2 separate regions of the Homo sapiens genome follow, and region 2 is linked to region 1. A link means that fine-mapping ties the variant in region 1 to the expression of a gene that starts in the linked region. Tissue or cell type: follicular helper T cells. Region 1 holds a variant in brackets; the other region holds the start of a gene. All regions are shown on one strand. Distances are from middle to middle.

Region 1 (2,685 bases):
CTAGAAATTCTCTACCTGAGTTCATTCAATTCATGGATTACCTAGAATGCACACAGGTAATGTGTCTCTATCTAAAAAGATGTGTTACATTTTCCTGTGTTTGCACTACCTGATTTCTTTTCCCAGTGCCCAAATCAGGCAGGGATACTACACACTTCCATGCACTTCTAAGTTTTGACAATCCATTTGCTGATGGATACAATCATTTTGCATTCAACAAAGATGGAAAAACATAACCCAATTCCCAATTCCACAAACTCAGATGAGGTTTTGGGAACTCCTCTGGGATCAAAAGGTGATAACATTTTTTTTTTGTCAATTTTATAACAAAATCTGAGCCAGAGGATAGGATAAAATAATCCTCCTTCATACTCATATATTGCTTATACTTTGAGTCTCACAATACTGCAAATTTTCAGCAAAGATATTAAGACTGAAAGATGGCAAGTGACTTCTTAGGTCTCACAGCTAAGCAGCAAGTGGAGTTAGAAAGTGATCCCAGGTCATCTGACCCCATCAAATATTCTTCCCTCTGTTCCTCACCAGGGCTCACTTTGCCAAGGACCAAATCCCAGAGGGGTCCAAAGAGTATATCACTCAGACTATCCCAGGGCAAGTCCCAGCTCTCCATCAACTAATTGTGTGCCCTTGGGCAAGTTACTGAACTTCCTTAACCTCAGTTCTCTCAGCTGTAAACTGAAAAAGATAAAATCAACTTCTCATGGTTGTAGTGTCTCATTCAGTTTGGGCTACTATAACAAACTACCATAAACTGGGTGGTTTGGGTAACTGGATAAATGTTTAGTCAATAAACATCTTTTACAAGTCTGGAGGCTGGAAGTTTGAGATCAGGGTGCCAGCATGATCAGGTTCTGGTGAGGACCTTCTTCTGGGTTGCAGACTCCCAATTTCTCACTGTATCCTTACATGGTGGAAAGAGAGCTATAGACCTCTCTGGGTTTCCTGTTTGTAAAGGCACTAATCCCATTCATGAAGGCCGCATCCTCATGACCTAATCACCTCCCAAAGACCCCACCTCCAAATACCATCATGAGGGTTGAGATTTCAACATAGGAATTTGGGGAGGAACACAAACATTCAGACCTTAACATGTATGTCTGACCACTAGAGAGAATATGTGTGCAGTGCCTGGCCTGCTGTAGTTGTGCTTAGTGATGGAAACTACGGTAATAATTACAGAGACCCCAGCCTCTCACTGACAGAGTCCTTCTAACCAAACCAAGGAATTAACTCATCTTTTTTCTGGGGCTTCAAAGAATTAGAAATAATTGTAGAGTCTGAGTGTGGTGACTCATGCCTAAAATCCTAGCACTTTGGGAGGCCAAGGTGGGAGGGTCACTTGGAGCTCAGGAGTTCCAGACCAGCCTGGGCAACATAGTGAGACCTCATCTCTAGTTTATAATATAAAAAAAAGAAATAATTACAGAGTTATG[T/G]TAGATGAGAGAATTAGTAGGAACTGAAAGCTCACATCAGAAAGGAATTATTTAATTATTAGTATTAAAATAAATGATGTTAATAAGTACTAACAATAATAGAAGTAACTTTGTACCATACAAACATATTTGTTTCTCCTTTACCCACAGAGAATAAACAGAAAGTGCTACATAAAATGTACCCACACAATTTCCTTAAGCACACATTTAAGTTTTTGTAGCGTTGTTTACCAATCTTAAAACAAAGGACATTGTAAAGTATGGATGAATTTCTATTTCATTAAATTTTCTCTTTACAATAGCATATGTAAAACAGACATGGTTTAAAATAAATTACATTCTAGTGAATGGCACTTAGCCCCCTCAGAAGGAACCAATCAGTCCAGATCAGTGATCTTCAAACTTTTCCCATTTTATGCCCTTAAGAAAACATTTTAATGCATGTTCCCCCTTGCACATTTTTCAGTTGACATCTATAATGATTCATCATAAATTTAGGCGGTTGCAAAAAATGTCATTTTCAATGTATTATAAATCTTGACATTTTGAAAGAAACATTACCTTCCAAAATGAATCCAATGGAATCTAAATACCACAGTAATATAATACTTGACATTATCCATTTAAAAAATATATGAACTAGCTCTTTTTTAACAGCCAGAAATTCTGCAACATTCCTTTAATTTTCTTTTGAACTTACAGTTTCATCCTACTTCCTCCAAAGAAGTTTATTTGGGCTGTGATATATTTTTATGCTTGAAAATCTATTACTGATCATCTTCTCATATTTCTTGACTACAAAAATAATATATTAAAATTTAAAAATGTAAAAGTTTATTTTCTATGACCTTAAGGCTCTGCGTTCAAAAAAATCCTTTGATTAACATTACAATTATTGTTAGCACATAACTGATCAAAACAACATAGCAAATTTTGATGAAAGTAAAGTTTCAGTGGAAATGTATGATTCACTCTCCTTAAATTTGGTTAAACTCAAAGAATTACAAACTGCTTAACATGTATGTTTGCCAATCACTAGGGTCACTGATTTTCTCAACATGGATCCCTTGGGTGGAGACTTGGAGGGTTGTGCACCTGGTACACTCCCTCAGTGAGACACCATGGTGAGGGGTCTGCCATTCGTCGTAAATGGGAGACGAAGAAAGAGCCTACAGCTTCATTACACACACAATCTCTGTCCATTCCCATTTAGCGAAGGCATGATACTGAG
Region 2 (2,685 bases), 100 kb after region 1:
AGCAGGGGAGAAAGGCAAGTGAATGTCTAATTATCCTACTTAGTAAGTGAAATAAAATTTCAAATATATTTCAGGTACAAAAATAGCCCAGGAAGTGACTGACTCTATCTGGGTAGAGTGACGAAAGGCTTCACAGAGCAATGATATCTAAAATGAATTTTAATTTCAACAGATGAAAAAGAGTTTGCCAAATCAACAAGAGGCATAGGATAGTACTAGACTGAAGAAACAGGTTGTTCAAAGGGACTCAGAAGCAGTTCAGTATTGATGGAGCACCAAATAAGATGGGATGGCAAGGAAATAAATGAGTCTCAAGAGCAATTCAAAGATTATAAATGGTTACATAACTATGCTACATAGGATGGAATCTACCCTGTAAGCAGAGAGGAACTACCTACTGTAGGCATTTTTAAAGGAGGGGTTATTTATCAGATTTTAGAATGTAATTTTTTCATTAGAGTTCAAATAAGCATTTAGTATTAAAAATTGTGAATAACAAGCTACCTTTACAAACCTAAAAAAAAATTTATTATGTAACTTTGCCTTTTAAACAGTCTTTGCCTGGTATATTATCTAGAAGATTATACTCGGCGTTTGATAAATGATGACTAAACTGCAGAAGACAGACTGAGCATCAGTGGGCATGGCGCTTAATAACAAAGATTTTAAAATGTAAAAATAGAAATGTAGACTGGCAAAAAGTGCAAAAATGTTTTAAGGTTCCTTTCGCGGGGGGGAAGGGAGGGAATAGCCTCCCTCCTTAAATGCAGACAACCTTTCTCTTAATGACTTTTTCCTTCTATATAGTTATCAGAACTTAACCAAAACCTTCTTTTCCTTCCCGACTCTCTTTTCCTTACGTAATACTCATATGCAGACTCTTAGCCACACCCTAGTAAAGCAACTTCCCCAGCATTTTCCAATCTAAGTTTATTATCTCCTCCAACACTACAGTCTTTAGCTTCAAAATTTCAAGAGTCCTCTAATGTTCTATTTCTAATATGCTCATAACCATTTCAAAATCAAATGTTGCTAGAATATCTCTATCATGCTCACTGCTACACCCTCTCCCAACCACACCTTCATCATTTGAAACCTGCATTACAGCTCCACTCTCCCTATTCAGTCCTACAAACCTCATTAAGGCAGGAAGGCCAGAATCTGGAATTACTTAAGTCCAGGTGTATTTAAAGTGCGTGATCATTCTAGAGGACTAACTCATGTTTGTCTTTGTTCTTATTGTAGACCTAAATGACTTCACAAGGGCCCGTGTAACACCAGTATTGCAGACCCATGTGTCACAAATTCAACTAGCACATTGTTTTTCTCCCCCTTCTTCTATTTCTGTAGAAGATGAATCCGCAGGCAAGAATGATGGATGGGTGAAAGGGAGGGGGAATACGAAAGCCCAGAGGCGGAGACTTCACTTCCGATTGCCACGCTATATCAAGAAAGCCAACAGTCTGGCCTTTCCGCAAGCCACAAGAAAAGGCAGATCAGACTCCCCGGCTCCTCGGGTAGTTCTCAAAGGCAAAGACAAAAATAAGAAACTAGTCTGAAGAAAGAGAGTCCCTCGCTTCTTCAGAACTCACCTGTCAAGAGCGGCGTGGACGGCGCCATGTTGTCCCGGAAAGAGAAACCGCTCGGGTGAGAGTTCACCAGGGCCGAACCCGGCCCCTACACGTCTCCTCATGCGTGGAGACAGCGAATTGGTGTTTCCGGAGCCATCAGCCTCGGGGCCAATTCACTTCCGGTTACGGAGTGACGCGGAAAAGGCGCCCAAACGCGCACGCGCAAATCTAGGGCGACGCTTGACAGAGCTTGGGAGGGTGCGCCTGCTTTCGCCCTCCTTCTCCAGCGGGAGGGGCGCGCACTTCCGCGGGGCGGAGTCCGTCTAGTGCTGACGTTGGCAGCCGAACCCAAAGTAGATCGAGGCGGCGGGCTGCACATTCCCGTTGTTGCGTTGCGTTTCCTTCCTCTTTCACTCCGCGCTCACGGCGGCGGCCAAAGCGGCGGCGACGGCGGCGCGAGAACGACCCGGCGGCCAGTTCTCTTCCTCCTGCGCACCTGCCCCGCTCGGTCAGTCAGTCGGCGGCCGGCGCCCGGCTTGTGCTCAGACCTCGCGCTTGCGGCGCCCAGGCCCAGCGGCCGTAGCTAGCGTCTGGCCTGAGAACCTCGGCGCTCCGGCGGCGCGGGCACCACGAGCCGAGCCTCGCAGCGGCTCCAGAGGAGGCAGGCGAGTGAGCGAGTCCGAGGGGTGGCCGGGGCAGGTGGTGGCGCCGCGAAGATGGTCGCCAAGCAAAGGATCCGTATGGCCAACGAGAAGCACAGCAAGAACATCACCCAGCGCGGCAACGTCGCCAAGACCTCGGTAAGGAAAGAGCGGGCGCCCCTCTGCGTTCCGCAGCCGGAGCTGAGTCCGGGTCCCTGGGGCCGCGTCGCGTTTTCTCCCGGATCCGGCCGACCGTGGGCTGGTGCCGTGGAGGGGTAGGGGCCCGAGTCTGCGAACCGCCAGACTGTGGGGGCTCGGGAACGGAAGGGGAGACCTGTGAGGTGAGGGGGCCGGCGACCGGCGTGCAGGCGTGGGAGCCTGGGGTCCGAGTGGTTTCTCTGCATCTGAAATGGTGGATTTTCGCTTTTGCAGAGAAATGCCCCCGAAGAGAAGGCGTCTGTAGGACCCTGGTT

What was found. PIP is the estimated chance that this variant, and not a neighbour inherited with it, causes the effect.
Region 2: EIF2A starts here. The variant in region 1 is fine-mapped to the expression of EIF2A in follicular helper T cells (Schmiedel 2018, PIP 0.95).

The regions. Positions count from the first base shown.
Region 1 is chr3:150,648,464-150,651,148 of GRCh38, reverse strand. No RefSeq gene overlaps it. Among named protein-coding and RNA genes, the nearest start is that of SELENOT, 46 kb to the right of the region's middle. The variant T/G (reference allele first, on the strand shown) is at 1,455.
Region 2 is chr3:150,545,738-150,548,422 of GRCh38, reverse strand. It overlaps EIF2A (eukaryotic translation initiation factor 2A), which reads right to left and starts at 1,636. Exons shown (of 14, transcript NM_032025.5): 1 at 1,593-1,636. The coding sequence starts at 1,620. It overlaps SERP1 (stress associated endoplasmic reticulum protein 1), which reads left to right and starts at 1,927. Exons shown (of 3, transcript NM_014445.4): 1 at 1,927-2,371; 2 at 2,645-2,685. The coding sequence starts at 2,288. RefSeq lists enhancers at 1,329-1,868, 1,141-2,340, 1,786-2,416.